Linked DNA regions of Homo sapiens: region 1 is linked to region 2. Evidence: fine-mapped expression QTL. A gene starts in region 2. The other region holds a variant in brackets. All regions are shown on one strand. Distances are from middle to middle.

The links. PIP is the estimated chance that this variant, and not a neighbour inherited with it, causes the effect.
Region 1: its variant is the best candidate, but not a certain one, in a credible set for the expression of RNF157 in lung (TOPMed, PIP 0.55).

Annotation. Positions count from the first base shown.
Region 1 is chr17:76,266,146-76,271,240 of GRCh38, reverse strand. It overlaps UBALD2 (UBA like domain containing 2), which reads right to left. Exons shown (of 3, transcript NM_182565.4): 3 at 1-1,047. The coding sequence ends at 736. Among named protein-coding and RNA genes, the nearest start is that of UBALD2, 3.3 kb to the right of the region's middle. RefSeq lists enhancers at 1-110, 991-1,180, 2,881-3,110, 5,081-5,095. The variant A/G (reference allele first, on the strand shown) is at 2,465.
Region 2 is chr17:76,237,347-76,242,858 of GRCh38, reverse strand. RNF157 (ring finger protein 157) reads left to right here and starts at 2,366. Exons shown (of 19, transcript NM_052916.3): 1 at 2,366-2,706. The coding sequence starts at 2,619. It overlaps LOC105371896 (a long non-coding RNA gene), which reads left to right. Exons shown (of 6, transcript XR_007065913.1): 6 at 1-1,997. RefSeq lists silencers at 2,192-2,261, 2,282-2,421 and an enhancer at 2,726-3,398.

The sequences.
Region 1 (5,095 bases), 29 kb before region 2:
GATTCTGATTCGGGAACTAAACCCAAAGGCAGGCTCTCCACTTTGGACCTGGACACGCAGCGGGAGGGGCAGGGCGCCCAGGGCAGTCAAGTCCCCTGCTGGGCAGAGCCTGGCCTTTGACCAAAGTCAGCTCCTCAGTGCCACATCAGCCCTGCACATTCAGCAGGAGACAGGGGTGATGAGCTATGGGGCCACAACCAGCAATCAGAGGTGGGGAAGAGGCCATGGGGAGAGAGCCCTGATACCAAGAGGGCCTTCCACAGCTTTGACCTCAGGCCCTCCTGGGACCTGCAGCTGCTATGTGGCTGCCCAGTGACTGCAGGAGTGGTGTCCTCTTCCAGATTCCAGAAGGCATGGCTGTTAAAGGAGGCAGCTGACAGATGCCTTGTGCCCACAACATCACTCCATCAGCTCTGCAGCATGGCAGCCCTACCCCCGAGCACCCCAGGTGTGCCAGGCCCATTCTCACGCACATTAGTTATATTTATCTATTCATATATATTATAGTTATATATTAAAAACAGAGGAAAAACTTGCCTGAAAAACTCCTGAAGGACCCACGTGGCCCAGGAAGTTTACTGTCCCCCCGACCCACAAAAATTCTTTTATAAAATCTTCCAGTGCGATCTTCGGGAAACCCCCTGCCCTCCCCGGCTCCCCCCTCCCTGGCCCTCCTGTGTCCCCACAACCCTGGGCTGCCCCCAGCTCCAGCCCAGCGCCCGGCGGCGTCCAGTCTCATCTCTGGCCGTCCATGGCCGCCATGGCTTTCTGCTGGGCGCCCCCCTGCTGTGCTCCTGGGGGCCACGTGGGCTGTGGGCGGTGGAGGTGGTGGAAGGTGGTGGGGGAGGAGGGCGGGATCCAGGGCGCCTGGTGGCTGGGCGGGGACGAGGCCCAGAAGGGGCTGAAGTTTGCAGGTGGGGAGCAGGCTGCGGCTGTCATGGGGCTGTTGCTGCTCTGCAGGCCCTCGGAGGCGCGGAGCTTGGAGAACATGGCCAGCGCATCGGGGAAGTTGGGCGGCGTGGCAGGGGTGTTGCTGGGAGTGCACATCTGCGGGAGAGAACACGGGTGTGGGGAGGCTGCCTCGGGGGTCCCCGAGCCACTGGATGGGGCTTACCCAGGCCAGCCGCTCCTTTACTCCCATTTTTCAGCTTCATTCATTTTCGCACAAGCAGCTTCCACAGGACAAAAGTGCCCTCTCCCCGAGGCAATACAAACAGAAAACAAGGACAAAACCCAAGAACCTTATCAAAACCAACGGGGTTTCATGAGGCCTGGAAATGACACCCCGAGGAGCATTCAAAGTAAATGGTTAATTGCACCCAGGAGCTAAGGTGTCAGATTAAAGTGAAAGGGCAAGGGGGCAGCCCAGGACACCACTGTTCCGCACCTTCCCTGGGCAGGGAGACCAGCTGACTGCCCCACCAGCCACCCTCAGATGCTCCCAGGCTGCTAGGCAAGGGAGAGCGGCCAGCGGGGAGGCTCTCCCTCCTGTGCCAACCCTGGAAAAGTTAAGCCACCTTGGTGGATGGGTTCACACCACACTAAGGGTGACAGCCACCAGGCCTTGAAGGCTTTGCCTCCCTTAACAATGACACTTAGTGGCTTCAATTATCCTCTCTTTATGACAAATGAGGAAACTGAGGCCCAGAAGTCAAGTCACTTGCCCGAAAATGCACCCACAGCAGAGGGCAAGTTGAGAAGACGGACCTCCCCAGCTCCCAAGTCTGCAGGCCCAAGCTCTTAACATCTACTGGGCCACGCTGCACAGAGTCAAGAGCCCCTTTATATCTGGGCCCCTTGAGGACACAAACCAGGGATTTCAATGTCCTGTGTCTGTAGCCTCAGGCCACAAACACAGCTGGCCTGCCCTTGCCTGCAGGCTGGCAGTTTCTCAGTCTGTCCAGCCCCTCAGTCCTCTTCCTGGGGGTAGCTACAGTCCCCCATCTGCTGTCTTCTGTCACTACCCTGGGGGCAGGGGCTGGAGTGCCATCCAGGAGCACCTCGTCAGCAGCATGGGCAAGAGGCAACACAGAGAACAAGACCACACAAAACTGGCTGGGACCTCAAAGCTGCTTTCTCCCTTTCCCAGGAAGCCACAGGAGTCCTTCTTTGAATTTCTCCTAATTTTAGCAACACTGGCCCCTCCCCCAGGCGCAGGAGTTGGGGGAACGACTTGAGGGCTCTTCACCTTGAAAGAGGGAGCTTTGGCAGGGCGCAGTGGCTCACGTCTGTAATCCCAGCACTTTGGGAGGCCGAGGCGGGTGGATCACCTGAGGTTAGGAGTTCGAGACCAGCCTGACCAACATGGTGAAACCCTGTCTCTATTAAAAAATACAAAAATTAGCTGGGTGTGGTGATGGGCGTCTATAATCCCAGCTACTTGGGAGGTTGAGGCCGGAGAATCACTTGAACCCGGGAGGTGGAGGTTGTAGTGAGCTGAGATCACGTCACTGCACTCCAGCCT[A/G]GGTGGCAGAGCAAAACTCCGTCTCAAAAAAAAAAAAAAAAAAAACAGAGGGAGCTTTCACAGCTAGAAACCGGAGGTTGTGTAGGGGGTGTGTAACATACATGGAATGGGGACACTAGCACACCCTGTCCATTGAGCCCCACACCATGTCAGCACCCAGGGCACCAAGGGAGCTCTGACCCTTGCCTTTCTAGGGGTCCTCAGGGGGAGGCCAAAGGACCCAATGCAGAGGCCTGGCCCCACCCAGACCTTTCCCCTCCTCCCTCCACTACTCCCTGCCCCCCCCCCACCCTCTGGGGATGACTTCTCGGCAGCAGGAAACAATGAATGAAGGGTGGGGGTGGAGGCCAATTGCATCACAGCATCGTGACCGACTTCCCCAGTTCCCCGCCAGCCAGCGAGGCCTGTCTCCTCAAACAGCCGCCAGAGAACAGCAGGGATGATGGCTGGCAGGCCTGTGGTGGCCTGCCTGTGTAAGCTTGGGCAAGTTCCTGAACCTCTCTGGAGCTTCTCTCTGCTTTTGTAAAATGAGGGTTTTGAACCAGATATGCCCTCTCGGCCAGTTCTCAAGAAAACCCATTGTCCCCTGTACCTTTGTCCTCCCACTTCAAGTCTGTAGTGCCTTTCTCCACTTCCAACTGGGAAGCCCTCCTTATCAACTGGGAAGCTTCCAACTATGGGAATCTACAGTAATGTACGGGACAACCATTTATCAGTTACTCATGACTTCTGGTTTTGCCATTTTGCTGTTACTGGTCTCTAGTGTTTCGTTTTTTGATCTTTTTCCTTTGACTTACTTTGTCCAAAATAAATTGCCAGGCCGGGTGCAGTGGCTCACGCCTGTAATCCCTGAACTTTGGGAGGCCGAGGCAGGCGGACCACCTGAGGTTGGGAGTTCGAGACCAGCCTGATCAACATGGAGAAACCCCGTCTCTACTAAAAATACAAAATTAGCCAGGTGTGGGATTACAGGTGGCACGTGCCTGTAATCCCATGAGGCAGGAGAATCGTTTGAACCCAGGAGGTGAAGGTTGCGGTGAGCCGAGATCACACCATTGCACTCCGCCTAGGCAATAAGAGTGAAACTCTGTCTCAAAAAAAAAAAAAAAGAAAAGAAATTGCCAGCTGGGTGCAGTGGCTCACACCTATAATCCCAGCACTTCGGGAGGCTGAGGCGGAAGGATAGCTTGAGGCCAGGAGTTCAAGACCAGCTTGGGCCACATAGAGACTCCCCCTGCCCTGGCCTTTCTCAAAAATAAAATTAGAAAAAAAAAAAAAAAAAAAAAGAAACCATGAACTTTTTGAGAGCAGGGATGGTGTCCTCCACTGTGCTGCTAAGGCACTCAGACTTGGGCACTGATGGACACACTGGTTATGTGTGTTACAAAACCTGCTGCCTTCCTTGAGGGAAGCTTCAAAAGAGACTTAGCATCTCCTTGGGATTTGCAGAGGAGGGGCAATAGGAACTAAACAGGATGCCAGACCAGCTCTTCCTGGGGAGCCTCCCTGTTCTCAGCCCCTCAGAATGGCTGTAGTATCTGGAAGTTCTGAGTTTTTTGGGATGGCCACAGCTGGTGGAAGGAAATCTCAAGGATCCGGTGACAGGAGATGGCAGGAAGCTTCGAGACTCAAGCATAGGCGGGTGCTGGCCATTTCTCCTGGTCAAGTGCAGGGGACGGTGTCCCCTGGAGATGAAACCCTCTTGGGTTTCTAAGAGCCCTGTGGCCAGCACCATGCTCCCATCATACTCAAATGCCATTTTGGCTTGATTTATATACAGCATCAGCCATTCTGAGAAAAACTAGCTAACAAGGTCAAGACAGACCCCTCTACTTGTCCTCTGTGACTAGATGAAAACAGAGAGCCAAAGGCAAGGGCACCAAGTGTTAAAAATCCCAAAAATGCACCTAGAGTCCACAACAGCTCTCCTGGGGAACAATGTTTTAAGATCCCTATCGCTGAGCCCTGCCCCTCCTCCCCCAGCAGGGCTAATAGGTAACTAGGGGGGTAGGGTACAGGAGAGATGTCCTGGGCCTCAAGAAAGCAGAGTACCCCATGGCCAGGAGGGCAAAAGCTTGGGCCTGGGCTAGAATGAAAAAGAAAGCAAATCCAGACCCCGGACCACTTCTCTGTGTGCTGGGCTGGTGGAGCTCAACACAGAGATTAAAGACACATTCCTGGCCTTATCTTGGGTCAAAATCTGTGTGTCCTCCTGGCTTGGGGGATGTATGTCCTTCCAACTTCCCAGTCCCCTTGGGCTTCGGAAGGTTGAACAGATCTTTGTGGGTAGAGCCCGGCTTCCTGAGCCAGGGTGGATTCATGCCTTTCCTGTTCCCTGTAGCGCTGGGTGTGTGTGTGTGTGGAGGGGGAGGGGGGAAACCACTCAACAGCACGAGGGGGTCCCCATAAACACAAGCACCCCCATCGCCCTCCCTGGGCCCTTCGCGCGGGCTTCCCAGTGCCCCAGACGTCCGGGCATCACCCTCTCCCCCTCCCCATCCCCTGGCTCTGGGGTCCCCCAGCTCCTGAGCCCCTCGCCAGGCCCCCGGCCCTCTCCCCCTCCCCCCAACTTTGGCGCCGCTTCCCCCCAGGGACCAGTGCCGGGCACCAGTCCCGAGGCCAAGCAGCAGC
Region 2 (5,512 bases):
GACTGGGCTATTTTCAGAGGAGGAAACGGAGACCGTTTCTAAGGGCTTAAGTCAAAGTTACATAGCTGCTTAGGGGTTTGATTTGTCCAACTCAAAGTCTAGTGCTCTTTCTGTGCCTCATTCTCTTCGACTGTAAAATCGGGGTGTAAATAGCATGTATTTGATAGGGTTGTTGGGAGGGTTGAATGCTTTAATACGTGTGAAGTGTTTAAAACAGCCTGGCACATAGAGTGTTCCATAAATATCCACTAATTTTATTGTGCTATGCCTTGTTTTTCTTTACTATTCTAAGCATTGGACTCATGACTCCTTCGTGGGAGGAGGAACCAACTTCTAGGCTTGGGGAGTATTATTCAAGATGGAGAAGCTGGCTTCCCAGGGTCAGGCCAAGGTGGGACCAGAAGAGACACCCCATAAGCAACAGGACTGGGCTGCTTGACTAAGCCACATCCCTGCCTGGCCCTGGCTAAGCAGAAGAAACTCTCAGACATGGATAAACCCACAAAGGGAAGGGATGTCCCGTTTACAAAATGCCGAGGGCAGGAAGAACCAAGGCTTCTGAACAGAGCCGAGGAGCATAAGGCAACATTTTACTCTGTGATGTGTCGAAGGCCTTGTGTTTTGAGGTGGTTCTAGATTCTTATTTGCATTTTACCTTTACCCAGCAGTTACAAGGTAGGGCCTGTGTGTGCTGAAAGGAGTATGGAGGAGGACACCAGTTCCCTCCCACAGGGATGACTGAAAGCCCTGGAGTAGTTAGGACCAGGGACTCTGCCAGAGAGCTCTGGTGCTTGGGAGAAGCTGCCGGGGCAGGGACTTGCCCTGTAACCCAAGCCTTCGTTAGCAGCAGCCAATATAAATGACAGGGATGTGTTCCCACCATCCTGAGGACCCTGGAGGAAACCAAGGCACTTAGCATCAGGTCTGTTGGCTGCTGCTGAAAAGACGGCAATGAAAAATACGAAATGTGCCGGGCGCGGTGGCTCACGCCTGTAATCCCAGCGCTTTGGGGGGCGGAGGTCAGGAATTGGAGACCAGTCTGGCCAGCATGGTGAAACCCCATCTCTACTAAAAGTAGAAAAATTAGCCGGGTGTGGTGGCACATGCCCGTAGTCTCAGCTACTCGGGAGGCTGAGGCAGGAGAATCCCTTGAACCCAGGAGGCGGAGGTTGCAGTGAGCTGAGATCACGCCACTGCACTCCAGCCTGGGCGACAGAGGGAGACTCCGTCTCAAAACACAGAAAAACAAAAACAAAATATAACCAGGAAAGACCTAGACTCCGTAAAATAGCTTTACAAACCTAATCAAGGGAACCAGACACCCCAAACTGTACTTCGAACACTGTTGAAAAGTTGTGAAAGTCATGTTCTAGCAGTTGAAATGTTTGCTGATCAGTCCACTCTCTCAGGAAAAAAAACACCAGACCCACAAAGAAAATAGAAGGTTTAAAACACAAATGTCTGTAATTAAGCAATGGAATGACGTCTTCCGCCGGCCCAAGCTTCCCACTGTTGTGTGTGTTTTTATCAACAGGAGCTCCCGGTTCTGCCTGGCCCGGTTCGCTTTCGCCTGCGTTGACTCTCTTGGCACTCAGGCCTTTCCAAAGTTTCCGGGGTCCCGTTTCCACGATACAGACAGAGGCTGGATGTCTTGATCTTATCCTCAGTCGATGTTCTCCTAACTTTAGGGCTACAAGGAGCCTTAAACAGCATGTATAGAGTTGGGAGCGCTTTGAATAGACGCACGTGAGAGGGAGGCGGCATCTTCCTAGCCGGTCACCAGCATTAACACGGGGCAGGAGACATGCGAATGCACCGTGGGACCCCTCTCCCTACCCCCCTGCATGAGATTTCCGAAGACCTCCGCCGGCCGACGCTGAGGGGCGGGGTTGGGAAGGCTTCCTCCAGGCGCGGGAGCAGCGGAGCGGGGACCGCCCGCTTTGGGACGCCCAGGACAATGGCGAGCGAGCTCCCGGCCAGTCCTCGCGGACCGCGGGAGGGGGCGGCTCCCTGCGCGGTAATCCGAGCCGGGATAAACAGGCGCGGAGGGGCGACGCGTCCCGGCCGGGTGCAGCGCTCGTCTCCTGGGGTCCCAGCTCCGGCCGGTCCCGCCCCGCCCCGCCGCGGGCACCCGGCCGCGCCCCCGTCCCCGTCGCGAGTCCCCGCCCACGCCCACGCCCCCGCCGCGAGGCCCTGGGCCGCGTCCACGCGCGCCGAGTCCAGCCGCGGCTCCCCGCGCGAGGCACGCGCCGCCGGCTCCTGCTGCAGTCCCGCGCTCATTGGCTGCTCCGGCGCGGGCGCTCCCGCCCCGCCTCGCCATTGGCTGGGGCCGCCGCGGTCCCCGCGCGGAGCGGCCGCTGACATCACGCGGCCTGAGGCGGCGGCGGCGCCCCCGGCCCAGACCCGCAGCCCCCTTGGCAGAGGCGCCGCCGCGGTGCCCGGCGGAGGATGGTGCGCGGCGCGCCGGGGGCTCCCCGCCGCCAGAGCCGCAGCGCCGCAGCGGAGCCGGCCGCGGCGGGCAGTCGGCCCCCGCACCGGGCGCGGGGCGGGCGGCCGCGGTGAAGCGCGGAGGGCGGCGCGGGCACCGGGGCCGGGCCGGGGCTGCAGCCGCAGCGGCCATGGGGGCCCTGACGAGCCGGCAGCACGCGGGCGTGGAGGAGGTGGACATCCCGTCTAATTCCGTGTACCGCTACCCGCCCAAGTCCGGTGAGGGCGGGCGGGCGCCGCAGCCGCGAGGAGGGAGAGGGGCAGGGGCAGGGGTCTGGGTCGGGACGGCCTGAGGGGGCCCCGCGGGTCTTCGGGGACTCAGTGGTTGCGGACGCTCCGAAACGGTCTTCGAGCGCGGGAGGTCTTCGAGAAGGCCGAGGTCTCCCCCGCCCCGGGCGAATTAGCCCAAGGGGCGTCCTGCCGGGTCTAGCAGGGTCACCGAGGGCACCGAGCCCCTCCACGGGAGGACGGGAGCGGCCTCCATTGTAATCGGCCCCGTGACGGGGACGCGTGCCCGCAGGGACCGAGGCTCCTGGGGAGCGGGGCTGCGGCGTCGTAGGCGAGGTCGGCGCCCCGCACGGACCCGGCCGGCCCGGCCCAAAGCCTACCTGCCTCGCGGGGTCCGAGGGCCGCGAGGGAGGCGACCTCGGCATCCAAACAGGCACTTGCGCCAGGTGCTATCCCTGCGCTGCCGTCTCCTGGCCTCTGGAAAGGTTAGAATTAGGTTTCTCCTGGAAAAGCTTCCATTGCCTGCTGAAGGATGGAAGCCAAACAGGCATTTGCAGTGCTGGTGCTTTTGCAGAGGCTGTCAGAAGCCGGGGGGTGGGGGGGGTGGTGGTGGTGGAAAGTAACAGAAATGTTTGGGAATCTGAGTATCAGAGTTACTCGGATTGCCCCTTTGCTAGCGTAGTGGCAAGCCTGGGTTTTGGAGTGGGACCAGCTCTGGGACAGGGCAGAGGTATTGGAAACGTATAGAAGTATGTTTGTTATTAGAATCATCCCTTCACTTAAATGTCTCTAGCCTCTGGATTGTGGTATCAGCATTGGAGGTGGAGGAGGATTTTGACAGCAAAGCAGAGAATCACAAGGTAGTTCAGTTATGTGAGCACCGGCCAGTATGAATTGCATGACCTAGCCGGTGTTTACTTTTAATTGCAAGTAGTTTTATTTTAATTAATTACTTTTAATTTTATTCTCAAGACTTCTGAGGATGAATGGCTGCGACATTCTGTCTGCTTAGGACCCGATGGAGATTTTGGTGATTTCGGAATGAGGTGTCAGAATTGGAGCAGAGCCTCGTCTCTTTTTGGTAGAATAGAGACATACTGAGATGAGCTGGTTTCTCAGCAGTGTGTCCAGTGTCTGCCAGGTGAAAGCAGGGGCCAGACGATGAACCTGCCCGCATCCCTGCAGAGTGTCTGCCAGAGCTGTGTTTCTCACTGCTTTTGTACCAAAGAATGAATCCTTGCAAAGATGAATATGGTGAAGAATTGTTTTAGAAAGGTCTAAGATAAAGCTGTGGGTCGTTAGTATTTTAATAAAGCTCTGACTGATTATGACTACATAAAATCAACGCTAACCAAGGCATAGATTTTGTTTTTTAATAGACAAAAATATTCTTAGGGCGGCATGAGGAAAACTTTTTAAAATAGACAAAAATATGCAGCAGTATTTGTGGGCTCTGTTTTTCTTAAACCACATGGCTTTTATTGATCAAAATATGGAGCATACTTTGCTGAGCTTGGAATTTTCAATAGTGTTTGCTGCCTCAGGAAAGTATTCACCGCTCTTTCATATGTGGGACTTAACATAGGTAAACCTCTGGAAGGCTGTTCCCCAAAGCATATTTGTACAAGTATGAATCTTGGGTGATGATAATAAAAAGACAATAGACCAAACCAAAACTTTTGTTAATTAGCACACTCAATAAATAATCCTCTCCTCTCTACCAGTTTTAAAAGTTTAACTGTAAAACTGTAATTCATGTTAAATCAGAAGTTATACATGAGAGAAGTCTTTATAGCAAGTGGACCACATTATTTCTGTTGAAGCTAAAACATAGAAAATAGAATCAGAACATCCTGTCTCTGTCAGCAAACCTTTGTGTATTTGAAACCTTATGTGAGCTTGCATATATGCTCTAGACGGAGGCATCGCCTTTCTTCTGATCTTTGAATTGACCTGGCTCTTTATGGGATTACAGTATTAGTCCTGAAAGGAACCGTTGACAGAGTTTGGCCATGACCACCATGCCTAGCTAATGTTTAATTTTTTTTTTTTTTTTTTGAGTCATCGTCTCTCTCTGTCACGCCCAGGCTGGAATGAAGTGGTGCAATATTGGCTTACTGCAACCTCTGCCTCTAGGGTTCAAGCAATTCTCCCGCCTCAGTCTCCCAAGTAGCTGGGATTACAGGTGTTTGCCACCACACCCGGCTAATTGTTTGTATTTTTAGTGGAGATGGGGTTTCACCATATTGGCCAGGCAAGTCTTGAACTCCTGACCTCTCAGGTGATCCGCCTGCCTCGGCCTCCCAAAGTGCTGGGATTACGGGTGTGAGCTACCACGCCCAGGCAAGTTTTTTGTAGAGACACTCTCTCACTATGTTGCCCAGGCTGGTCTTGAACTCGTGGTCTCAAGCAATCCTCCCGCCTTGGCCTCCCATTCATTTCACTGATAAGAAAATGGAGACCCAGAGAAATGAATTGGTATGGCCAGGGTCTCTCAGCCAGTTAGTGTTCTTCCTACTATACTGTCTGCCTCCACCTCTCAAGGAATTGGGTTTTGAACTTGTACTCAAAAAACAAGACTTAAAACAATCATTCCATGATTATGGAATGAAGGCTATTTCGTGTCATAATTGAAGTCCCTATAGAGGAATCAACCTGGGTTGATTTTGAGAAGTCTCCTTATCCTGAGTACTAACAGTGGAACAAAGCAAGTGGCAGAGTCAGCTTTCTCCAGATGACATACCTTGTAGTTTGAGTGTTAAGTTGAGACCACTATCTGGCTCGCTGGAAAGCGGCT